Linked DNA regions of Homo sapiens: regions 1 and 3 are each reported to be linked to region 2. The links are microRNA targets in miRTarBase. Many come from high-throughput screens and were not tested one by one. Region 2 holds a microRNA gene; each other region holds the end of a gene's coding sequence.

Region 1 (4,244 bases), not on the chromosome of region 2:
CTCCCGAGTAGCTGGGACTACAGGCGCGCACCACCATGCCCAGCTAATTTTTGTATTTTTAGTAGAGACGGGGTTTCACCATATTGGCTAGCCTAGTCTCGAACTCCTGACCTCAGGTGATCTGCCCACCTCAGCCTCCCAAAGTTCTGGAATTACAGGTGTGAGCCCCCACGCCCAGCTGGTCAGGTGTCTTTAGAAGTCAGGAGTTCCCAACATTGTCAAGTCACTCCACTGTGTCTTTATTAACACAATTCCTTCTGCCTCAAAGGTTGGTCCCATTTTTACCAGGATACCCATCATTCAAGATCACCACCTTTCACTGAAATCCCAAAGTTAAACTCAGTACCTCTCTTCCAGGTTCCCACATAATCCTATATTCAAATTATGTTTGTATCTCCTTCCCCAGCAGACTTCGTAAGTTTACTACTCTTCTTTGTCCCATCATCCCCATCTCTTACAAGCCTACACACTAGCAAAGTAGCTAGCACATAGCAGGTACATATAATGGATGCTCCCTGAAGAGAACAGAACCAGAACTGCTATGTACAAATGGAGGTAACTTTACAATAAAGATATTCATTTCATGAGAATGATTTGATGGCTAGAAGAGTTAACATTTATTTTTAATTATAGCAAGTCACAGAGTTGTTAAATATGACTGTAAGCTGGGGATTATTCACCAGTTACACGAGCTGGTATGCATGCATTATGTCTGGAGGTAATGAACTGTAAATCATTGAATTACAGTACAGATACATCAGCTAGTGGGGCATAAGGAGGGAAAACAGCAGAGTCAAGGCTTCCACAGCTCACTAAACCAGGTTTAGCATCAGCAATATTTATTCTCTTAACACCAGCTAGACTTCACCATCAGTAATCCCAAATGACCATGCTCATCCAGTACAAAAGGAATTCAATCACAGCTGTGGCAATCTGTTAAACACTAATCAAAATCACAGGTAGCCATTCTATGTTCCTTCCATCATTTAATTAAAAATTTCTTACAAACATTAATGTCTATGAGATTTATTTGCAAAGATCCTAGTTCAAATCAATCCAAAATTTAGAATTGTAGTACAGATTGCACATTTTAAACACCACTTTAACAACATATGCAAATACAGTCAACCCTCCGTAACCATGTAGGATTTGTGAATTCAACCAGGATGAAAAATATTTGGGAGGGGGTAGGGAGGAGGCAGAATGGTTGCATCTGTACCGAACAGGTATAGACTTTTTGTCTTGTCATTATTATTCCCTAAACAATACAGTATAACAACTATTTACATAGCATTTACATTGTATTACGTATCAGGTAATTTAGAGATGATTTAAAGTATCAAGAGAATGTGTGTAGGATATATGCAAACACTACACCATTTTATATAAGGGACTTGAGTATCTGTGGATTTTGGTATCTGAAGAGGACGGGGTTGACCTGGAATCAATCCCTCAATATACTGAGGGACAACTATATACAGAAATGGACAGATCAACACAAACAGAAAATAATTTAGTACTCACCACACAAATAATTGAGATTAATAACTTAAAAGTCCAGAAAATTCTCTCATATATTAACAGTTCACTTATCTGATATTTGGCCAGTTATGTGTGCATAATTTCAGGCCTCAGTCTACTGATATAGAATTGGGTCTAAGTTTAGTGACTTCTTGATCTGTTTTTCGTGGTAAAACAAAGAAAAGCAGTAGTAAGTGTGGGGCCACTGAAAACTGAGAAAACAGTGACAGTGAAGGAACCCACACCATGGTAAATTCTGGGGTTTTATTAGGAAATGTCATAATACTGTAGAGGCAGAGGGTACATACTTACCCATCCCTGAAAGTTGCACAGTATTACTGAATAGTACTATGACTAATGCTTATAATGATTACCCAGTCATCACTAGAATATTAACTCTACTCAGTACATTCTGATTAAGAGATGCACAGTGTAAATTTTAGGAAAAATTCCCCCCCAAAATATGAAAAGCTCAAATGCATAAAAAGTGTTACACATCAGGAATCTAAAAAATTCACTATGTGTAAACTTTCATTCCTCATAATGCCAGAGACATAAGATATTGATGTCGTTAGCTGGCTAATAAGTAGATTTAGTTCAGTTCTAGATGATAACTACAGCCTCGGTCTCATCTCAAAGCAAAGATTTTCACAGAAAAAAAAGGCACCTCAACAATGTCCATATATAAATTTTATTGCATTTGACATCATACAAAAATTTGAACTTAAGGAAGAAAATGAAAATGTGCACCTTTTACAAGTCAAAGAAAAGCAAAAGTTTTAGCATTTGGTCTGCAAAAAAAAAATACGTTAGAGGTACAAAACTGTACTACAGCAGGTCTAAAAAATGTTGGACATAGTTCTTTTGAAAAAGTTAAAACTGTTTTCAAGGTTACTTTTTATATTTAAATTTACAGGCACTGACCAATTTACAAATATTTACATAAATCAAAAAGACCCTTAATAAACACTGTAGCTTTTTTTTTAGCAGCCACCACTTCTTTCATGTGAAAAAAGAAATACTAAAAAAGAGATTTTTTACAAACATTAAGCTTTTATTTATAATAATTTTATTGTGTCTTATCTAAAACATTTTGTGGTGACTTACTGCCTAAAAATTCCAGTTTAGATTACAATCCTATAATTGTACACAGAAAAATATCTGATACTACAAACAGGATATAATCTTAACTTTGATCTCAGTTTCTGTTGCTTCATGTCACAGAGAAAACAGAGCAGGAAAATGGCAAGTAAAACAGAAGTGCACATTGCACTAAGCTATCGTAAAGCACAGGAAACAATCTTTTCAAAATGTCTACACTGAACTGATTCTTTAAAACGATTCACTAACTGTTGTAAGAGTTAGTGCTCCCATTACTACAGTGCAAAATGTATTGTTGTTTCAATACAAAATTTAAAGCAATCTCAAGAGTACATCAAAAGCATGTGAAGTACTAATGAAATGCTAATACAGACACACCCAAAGCCTCAGTCTATCCCAGTGAGTCAAGCAAAGACTTAAGGCAATTGTTCAGTATTTCATGACTGCAGTGATTTGACTGAAATGAAAGATTTCGTTTTGCTTCAAGTAACTGAACAACTGACTTGAATCTTCACTTTACTAGAACAGACTTTGACAACAAACTATCTAACGTAGGTTATACTTTAAGCATGTATGAATTAGACCCTTTCCAAAATTCTACACATCTCTTCAGGATTAGCATGTGGTACAATTAATTGAAGTTATATCAAAAACTTTTTATTTGTTCAGTTAATTTCCCAAAATATATTTTATCTGATCACCTGAAAACACATGCAATATTACTCATCATCAATGTAAACATTTTTAAAAATACATTTTTAAATCAAAGGGGTTTATTAGGAAATGTCATAATAAAATATGCAATCTTTATATGTCTTTTTAAAAATAAAACATGAAAACAAGAACTATGAAAAAAGCAACTATGATGGAGGTAAACATAATGTATTATGATGAAACTATTGTTCTTTATTTCTTGGAAGAATTTATTAAGAAATAGAGGCCAGTTATCTTTTCAGGACAGCAGCTCTTACAGGTAGTATACTGTTCAAATCTCTCTTGTTTTTCAATCTGTGCCATGACTGGGAGAGAAAGAAAAATCATTCTTAAAACCTAAAATTTATGCAGAACAAAAGACTGAGAGTTTAAAAGAATGTTAATAGTTGGTTCTCTCTAGGTGATAAATTTTGAATAATTTTTTCCTTCAAATTTTTTCTTTTTTTGAGATAAGGTCTCACTCTGCCACCCAAGCTGGAGTGCAGTGGTGCAATCTCGGCTCACTACAACCTCCGCTTTCCAGGCTCAAGAGATCCTCCCACCTCTGCCTCCTGAGTAGCTGGGACTACAGGCGTATGCCATCACGCTCAGCTATTTTTAAATTTTTTTGTAGAGACAAGGTCTCATTGTATTGCCCAGGCTGGCTAAGTTTTTATTTTCCAAGTTTTTAACACAGTGTAAGTATTGTTTCTGTCATCAGAAAAGAAAATGTTATTTAAAAACTCCATATTTTTATGGTTCCAATTCATTAATAAAGAAATGGGCACATAGGTGGTACTGAAAGATACAACTGACAATATTAATATTTATTCACGGATTAATTCAATCTAAAAGTAGCAAGGTAATTAAGACAAAACCTTTGGATTTGAGAAGAGAGGATTATTTCAATTATTTGATTGACTGTCTTA
Region 2 (4,244 bases):
GCGGGCCGGAAGGGACACAGCCAGGCAAAGGTGGGAGGTGGTCCAGTGTGATGGTAGCGGGCGGGCCGGGCCAAAGCTCAGCGCCCACGAAGGGAGAAGGTGCCTGAGTGGAGGGTGACAGAGTGGAGTCTTTGCTTGGTGTTCAATAGGAAGCCGCTGAGAGTATTTTTGGGTGGAGGGGGAGGAAGGAAGAGAATATCTTTTGAGCATTCATGATGTGCCAAGTTCCATCTGAGCCACTTTTCGCTCAGCTGTCACAGTCTGTGAGGTGGTCAGCCTCACCCCATTTCACAGATAGGGCATCAGCTCAGGGGGTCACCTCTGCATTCAGCCCAGGAAGGCAGAGCTGGGATGGGAGCTGGTCTGTGGCTCCAATCTTGTGCTTTTTCCACCTTGTGGACAAAGTTGGTGGGAGAGCTGTCTGGGGCAGCCCCAAGGAGAGAAAGGGGGGCCAGAGCGTGGTGGGGAGCTGCCAGCTATCCCATGAGTGGGAGGAAATGGGAGCCCAGGCTCAGGGAACACTGTGGTTTCCGTGGATGGTACTGTCTGTCCTGTCCTGCCCAAGCTTCTGTCCTGTCCTGGTCCTGTGGAGGGGATGTTCCTTGGTCTCTGACCTGGCAGCAGAGAGTGGCCAGGACCTTCCCAGCTGCAGGCTCAAAGCCCATCCTGGCCTTGGGCCTGTCCTGAACAGCAGGAGGTGGCTTTCCCTTGCCCTGAGCTGGTCTAGATGGTGGCAGTCTCGGAGTCAAAGCCTTCTGCTGTGGCTTGTGGGGTATGCTGAGCCATAGGTAGCAGAACTGGGAAGCCTCCTTTTACAAAATGGGGTTTCTGAGCCCAGATAAGGCGAATGACTGAAGTTGCAGAGGGTGTAGGACAGTAGGGGCTGGACCTAGGGTTCCTTGATCTCTTGCGTGTGACCTTTTAGGCCTCTCCCTGGATAGGGAGAGGGGAGAGTTCATCTCTTCTAAAAGGGTTCCTTCAGTGGGGAGAGGCTGTGAAGAAGGGATGGAGGCTATTTCTGGGGGCTATTATCTGCCTCCAGGCACAAGCACTAAACAAAGCCAAAACGATTCCCAGCCCAGACACAGTCCTTCCATTATTATTGTTATTAATGCAGTTAATAACACACGCTCACAGAGCACGAGGCAGTAGGCAAAGTGTCCCCCTCACAACAGCCCCCTGAGGTAGGTTTTGGCGCAAGTTCAATCCCCAGCCCCTCCACCCACCACTTTCTGGCTCAGAGAGCTTGAGTGATGGCCCAGGGTCACACAGCTGTGAGTGGTGGAGCCGGGACTTGAACCCGTGCTCTATCCACTACACCCCGCTGCCTCTCATGGAGAAGAGGCAGGGTAGTGTAATGGAGAGAGTGCGGGCCGAGTAGCAGACTGGGCCTTCTGCAGTCACGGTGTCGTCCTAGGCTCCCTGGAGACGGTGGCAGTGGTGGCAGGTCCGGCTCTCCCATGCCTGGCCTTCTGCTTGGTGGGGTGGGCAGCAGGTCCTGGGATGTGGGCAGAGTCCCAAGAGGGTTTACCGATGTCCTGCATGACCTCATGCTGTTAGTGCTCTGGCTGGCAGGGGGAAGGGAGGAGGGTGTGTCGGGGTCTCGCGGGGGTTGAGCCATCGGGCCTGCTGGAGCCAGGCCTTGCTGTTTTTTGAAGACAGCCCCGCCATCCTGGCCCCCTGGCTCCAGCCCCTTCCACTGCCACATTGATGGCATCTAGTCTAGTCCTGCATTTCCCAGTGGAAGTTACTACAAGGAGGCAGGCTCCTGCATGGGGGCTACAGGAAGAGCCCAGAGCTGGGGTCTGGCTTCCGCCCTGCCCCTGCCCTCTGTGGGGCCTTACACTTCTGCTCTGGGTCTCAGTTTCCCCAGCTGCAAATTGGGATAGGACCAGGGTCCTCTAGGGATCATTGAATCCCCTGAAATGTTGCAAGATGAGGAGTCTGGGCATCTGTTCCTTATAAGAGGGGTCACTGCTTTAGTGGAACTCTCACGGAAGTTCATGACCTAGGAGGGTTTAAAAAACACTGGCTTTCCATGAAGACAATGAAAAGATGAGGCGCTGCTCCATGCAGGAGACCAAAGAGGCAGGACATCCAAGTGGCATGCAGGACCCCACATGGATCCTGGCCTGGAGAACGCTGCAGGCACAATTGGCAGAATGTGAATATGGATGGCACAGCAGGTAACAGTACCGAATCAATGTCAAGTTTCCTGAATTGATGGCTGTGTTGTGGTTATGCATGAGAATACCCTTGCTCTTGGGAGACACACCTGCAGTGTCTAGCGGGAGAAGGCCATCACATCTGCATGATGAGGAGGAGAGTGAGATTTGTCAGAGAGCAAAGACGGCAAAAGGTTAGCAACAGCCGAATCAGAGTGAAGGGCATGCCCGTATTCTTTGTGCCATCCTTGCAACTTTTCTGAAAGTTTGAAATTATCTTAAAATACAAAGCTAAAAAATAGGCCTAGGTCAGAGTTTGCACTCTAGGTCCCACCCATATGTGGCTTGACCCATAGGGACCTTAAAATGTGGGAATTTCTTGCCAATACTTAAACATTGAGAGCTGGTACAGGGAAATCTGGATTTCTGGCTCCTCTTGCAAAGTGAGCACTGAGGTCAGATTGGGCTGGCGCTTCTGCAGGCAGCAACAGGAAGCAGCTGTGGTTTGGGTTTGGCACCTGTGCTCTCCCTACCTGGCCCTGCAGACATATGAGTTTGCAATTTCTGAATATTTTTACTCTGTCCCGTTTGAAGATACACCAGACATGGGCTCGTGTCTGCCTGTCCGTCCCTGGAGGGTAGGAAGGTAGGGGAAACCTGCCTGGTTTTGATGATTTCCTTGGTGCCCTGAGTGTTGAGGTCATTTGAGTCTTTCTGAAGGCTGGTCTGCCCTCACTTGTCAGATGGGGAAACTGAGGTTCTGAGGGGCAGAGGCCACAGTGGGAGCTGTTGGAGGGCTGGAACCTGGGCATTCTGCCTCCAGATGCCACATTCCTTCCACACCATACAGCACCTCACAACCGCAGGGTTTGTTTGCAAAGGACAGTCACACGTGTGCATGCCTGTGGTCCCCACAACAGCCCTGTGGGGCAGGCAGTGGAGGCCTCACCAGCTTCCCCATTGCACTGACACAGACACAGAGGCTCAGAGAGGTGAAGGGACCTGTCCAGGGTCACAGGCCAAGCATGGTTGGACCAACTGACCAGAGCGGAGTGTTTCCTGCCCTCTTCTAAGCTGAAACAGTGCATGAGATGACACTAGGGCTTTCTCAACCACCATAACGACACCACAAATGCCCCCAGCCTGGTCTCTCTGTGTTGTTCCTCAAGGATCATCAGACTGGAAGGCCCAGCAAGGCCTCCCCGCTGATGTAAAGGGCCCATGGTGTCTGGTTGTGCATAAAAATGAGCATCCAAATGGCTGTTATGCAGGGAGTTCAGAACACTGGGGAAGAAACTAATCAAGGAACACCCCCTGGGGGAGGCAGGCTGCTGCAGGCTGAAGGTAGGGAGGAGTTGGATGATGAAGAGGAAGGGGGTAGCCCAGAGAGGTGGGAAAGGGGAGACATTTGAGATGAAGGATGAGAGGGCGAAATGGACATTTCTGGAGGTTCCAGATTTCAACACAACCTCATGAGCTGGGGCTATAATCAGAAAGGGGGGGAAGCTTGTTGGGGGTCCCTGGCTAAGGAGTAGAGTTGGGATTGGAACCCAGTCTGTTTCACCCCCAAGTCCAGGCCTCACCCAAGGAATGGGGAAGGGAACCAACTTATGTTGAGCCTCCCTGTGCAGCACTGTGCTAGGGGATCCACTTACATCATATCATGAATGACACTCCTATTGTCCTCCCAGGGAAATGGGCTCAGAGAAGTGAAGCCATGTGCCTGAGGCCACACAGCAAGTTCGCTTGAGAGCTCAGGTCCTGTTCAGCTCAGCCTGACACTCTGCTCAGCTTCTCCCCACTGCCTCTGGAGGACAGAGCCTAAGGTCTGCAGGGCCCAGGGGTGAGCTGGGCACAACCTCCTGAGAGCTTCCAGTTCAGAGCTCCCGGCTGCTCAGACCTGCGTGGGCAAGAGGATTGTTGCAGAAATGACACTACATAGTAGTGTCGTCTATCTGCATGTGGCCAAGGACAGCAGGGCCTATAAAAGTGAGACCAGTGAGATCCGGTTGGGTGGTGGGATGGTCGACAAATTTTGTTCTTCATTTTATTTGAGATGGTTTGTGCAGTGCAAAACTC
Region 3 (4,219 bases), not on the chromosome of region 2:
TAACACAGTCTCCAACACAGTTGATGTGGTTGCAATGTGAAATGAATTGGGAGAAAACAGAAGTGAACCAGTGTGGCGCCAAATAAAATGTCAAATTTCCACAAGCAAAATCCTACTAAAAAGAAACTAGGAACAATTTGAGTAGCTGAGAATAATCCACAAACATTCTGCTTTGCTCTTCTACAACTGACAAGGCCTATGGAAAGAATGATTTCTGCCCTGCATGACAACAAAGAAAGCCATTTCCAATTCAGTCTGTAAGAGAAAAGGAAACAAACAACTTCAGCAAATATTTACCGGATACTACATTAGTTTGTGAGGGCTGCCAAACAGAATACCACAGACCAGATGGCTTAAACAACAGAAAATTATTTTCTCACAGTTCCGGAGGCTGGAAGTCTGAGATCTAGGTTTTGGCAGGGATGGTTTCTTCTGAGATCTCTCTCTCTTTGGCTTGCAGATGGCAGTCTTCTTTCTGTTTTCCCATGGTCTTCCTTCTGTGTATGTCTGTCCTAATCTCTAATTATAAGGACACAACTCATACTGGATTAGTGCCCACTCTACTAGCCTCATTTTAACTTAATTATTTGTGTAAAGGCCCTATCTCCAAACTCAGTCATATTCTGAGGTATTGGGGGGTTAAGGACCTCAACACATGAATTTGGGGGACACAATTCAGCCTATAACAAATACACATGAGGTGTCAGGCACTGTGTGCAAACTGACTAGCACTGAAAATCAAAGGAAGTTCTTAATTGTTTCTTTTTTTTCTACAGAAACACAAATCTGAAAAGAAATGAAGAACCATCTTTGCCTTAGGATGTGGCAAATGGAGCTTTGGAACTGATTCATATTCAAAAGAAGGATCTCCTGCCCTAGCAACACAGCAAGACCTCATTTCTACAAAATAGAAAAAAAATAGCCAGGTGTGGTGGTGAGTGCCTGTAGTCCCAGCTACTCGGGAGGCTGAGATGGGAGGATCGCTTGAGCCTACGAGATCAAGGCTGCGGTGACCCATGATTATGCCATTACACTCCAGCCTGGGCAACAGTGTGAGACCTTGTCTCAAAAAAAGAGAAGGTGCTGTCTGCCTGTTGTGAAAGAGACCTTCCATAGATAGTTTATCCAATGAACACTGGTGCTCATGCACATGTGTGTGTAGTGGCGTCTCCAGGTTGGTTAACAGGGTCTCTGCCTCACGACCAGTCCATTACTTAGTGATGTGGTCACATTTCTGTTGGTTCTTTCAGACACAGCCCCAGGGCCTCATTCTGCCAGCCAAAGTCAGGCTCTGGTTTGCCGCCTCCAACAGTCCCACTCTGTGAGATCCTGGTTAATTTGGTTTGTACTTGGCAAAAAAAAAAAAAAAAAAAAAAAAAAAAAAACCTACAAAAAAGTGCCAAGAATGTCTCCTTTATTTAGGAAATACAATATACTTTCTTAGTGAAAATGAGTTCTCTTCTAGTTTGCTATTCAGAAGGGACATAATGGTTTTGCATACTCATAGCTTCTCTTTCTAGTCTTTCTGGAAATCTAAGATGCTAAATGTTCTTGGCCCTCAACTGAGTCCTTTCTATCTTTAGGCACCATTCAATGTCCATAGCTTTTTCATCGGACAACTCTCATTTTACATCCTCTTAGTGTATTACTATAATTTTTAATTCTATACAAAGGATCTCACTCATTTCTCAACTATCCATTGTCCCAACAATTATTTTTACTTGAATAAAGAATATAACATTTTCCTTTGATCAAGCATATCAGAATATCATGGTGTGTTTAAGTGTTAAGACACTGAGGACAGCACCACTCAGGAAAAAGTGAGGTGTCTATGGAGCCAGCCTTGCAGAGTTAATCTGCTCTTAACTAGTGGTGGCCATAGACTAAAGTCTCCATGCACAAGGCAAGCCAAGCTCTACTTCTGAAGTCTGATACCTGAGCTCTCCATAGCTAGAAGATTCCATGAAACAGAAACAAGCCACTGACTTGCCCATAGTAGGTGGTTCTGTATAAATGAGAACAGGAACAGAATTCAGGTGACATGATACCAGAATTGAGAACTAGACAAGCAGGGAGGGTTGATGCATTAGTCCATTCTCATGCTACTATAAAGAACTGACCAAGGCTGAGCAATTTCTAAAGGAAAGAGGTTTAATTGACTCACAGTTCTGCATTGCTGGGGAGGCCTCAAGAAACTTAAAATCATTGCGGAAAGGGAAGCAAAACACGTCCTTCTTCACATAATGGCAGGAAGAAGTGCTGAGCAAAAGGGAAAAAGCCCCCTATGAAACCATCAGATATCCTGAGAACTCACTCACTATCATGAGAACAGCATGGAGGTAACCACCCCAATGATTCAATTACCTCCCACCAGGTCCCTCCTACTATGATTTAAGATGAGATTTGGGTGGGGACACAGCCAAACCATATCAGATGTTAACCCATCCAAGCACAGAGTACAGGAAATACCACTCTGGAATATGGAAATCATTGAACTAAGCAGTGGAAGCTAGTACATGGAAACATGAGTTGTTTAGGCAACTCAGATACAATGTCATGAGGAAAGCAAAGGCAGGGAGAGCTGTGGCTGGCACAGAAGACATTGGGAAGACAGAAGGTTTCATAGGATTAGTTTGGCCCTGTTGAAAAGTTGTGGAGATCCAGGGAGAGATGGCTGGAGAAGGAAACTTAAACGTTGAAAAGAAAAAAGAAGAAAGCTAGACTAGAGTAATGTAAGGCCCTAAAGGATGAAAAGGGAGACTAAGAAGTGATCACAAGTTTCTCGATCAAGGAAAGGGCTGTCAGCCCAGGATTTCCCAATGTGCCTGGGAGCAATGTCTTCCAAGATAAAGATTTCACCTGCAGAACTAGTCTTCAGTGTCCCAAAGGACCTATTCTCAAATAACTCAACAATATCACTTCCATTCTGCCCTCTGTGTATCTGCAGCTAAGATTTCTCCACACTGTTTCCATCCTCAGGTTTTTCCTACCAATTCAACTTGCTAACAGAGTTAGCAAGTTGACTAAGAATTATCAGTTATTTCTTATGTCTCATTTCTTCTTCCTATCACCCCTGTTCATTTTCACAGTAACAGGTTTTGTACTTTTATCTGAGTCTTTTTTTAAAAAAAAAATCCTCTCTCAAGCTTCTCTACTTTTAGTCTTCTAAATCAAATTAATGAATTGTCTGCTATCCCAGGCCCTCTGACACCTGATCCCTGAATAGAAGTGTTGTTCTTGTATCTTACACAATGATTCACTGCAGAGATATCTCTCTGAGCCTGGGATTTCATGACACTGAAAACACAGAACAAGCTTTATCAATGGCAGCCATATTTCATCTACACATGGAAGCTGTTCACCTACCTCAGGGGAAGGTTTCAGAAACAGATGGTCTGCTTTGGAGACTATATACACTCAGAATTTCTTATTTGGAATTACATTTTACATGAATAAAAAATATAGCAAATCATCTAAAGCTCTAAAAATGTATGCAGAGACCTCTATAAATACAAGACATGTTGTTTGCAGCACAATTTATTATCTGGCCATAGTATTTGGGTACATTATCAGGTACCGATTTAACACCATGTAACCTCTCTTGACACAGAGCAACCCAAAAAGAAAACTTTAAAATGTGCAACAGCAATAAATATCAAGCTTTGTCATCTAAAATGTATAAATATAAAATATCAGTCATTTCTGGAAACATCTTAAGAAAATCCGGCAACCACATGTCCATGAGTAGGTGTCTGATGTTGACGGTGCTTACATTCAGAACATATCACCTCAGATCCAACACAATTATTTTTATGTCTTTTACCAACACATGTTTGCATATCTAGGAAAGAAAAAATTGGTTTTACCATATGTTTGATTTCACCATAATGTTTACCATATGATTTTCTTTAGGGAGGAAGTATAGATTTCCTAATTTTAATTTGTTCCTGATTTTTAAAATATTTCCAATCAGAACAAATACAATCACATTTATTCATTTTCAACAACAACAAAAATATTTACAGGGGTTGCCAAATAATTTTCATTTTAAGTAAATTCTAACGTCAATATAATGTTCTCTGATGTTATAGCCACAGAACCTCCAAGAAAATTAGGAAAAAAAAAGGCGTAGTCAAATGTTTCTTTTGGACTATGCAAAGGTAATCAAGAAGTATGATCATAGTTTCCATCAATTGCTATGAAAAAACTAATTTGGCCA

The links. Region 2 holds the annotated microRNA hsa-miR-885-5p (UCCAUUACACUACCCUGCCUCU, at 1,341-1,362, opposite strand). A microRNA usually pairs through its seed, bases 2 to 8, with sites in the 3' UTR of a target mRNA and lowers its output. Matches are read on the target gene's strand: a 7mer-m8 pairs with bases 2 to 8, a 7mer-A1 pairs with bases 2 to 7 and ends in A, and an 8mer does both.
Region 1: the mRNA of TENT2 is a reported target of hsa-miR-885-5p. Seed matches in the 3' UTR shown: 7mer-m8 at 2,892-2,898.
Region 3: the mRNA of STAMBPL1 is a reported target of hsa-miR-885-5p. The part of its 3' UTR that is shown has no 7-base or 8-base seed match.

The regions. Positions count from the first base shown.
Region 1 is chr5:79,684,596-79,688,839 of GRCh38, reverse strand. It overlaps TENT2 (terminal nucleotidyltransferase 2), which reads right to left. Exons shown (of 15, transcript NM_001114394.3): 15 at 594-3,641. The coding sequence ends at 3,567. Among named protein-coding and RNA genes, the nearest start is that of CMYA5, 3.1 kb to the left of the region's middle.
Region 2 is chr3:10,393,191-10,397,434 of GRCh38, forward strand. It overlaps MIR885 (microRNA 885), which reads right to left and starts at 1,372; the gene lies at 1,299-1,372. The region is part of intron 5 of ATP2B2 (ATPase plasma membrane Ca2+ transporting 2); the gene reads right to left. RefSeq lists an enhancer at 1,907-2,503.
Region 3 is chr10:88,922,790-88,927,008 of GRCh38, reverse strand. It overlaps STAMBPL1 (STAM binding protein like 1), which reads right to left. Exons shown (of 11, transcript NM_020799.4): 11 at 3,522-3,841. The coding sequence ends at 3,785. Among named protein-coding and RNA genes, the nearest start is that of ACTA2-AS1, 7.8 kb to the left of the region's middle.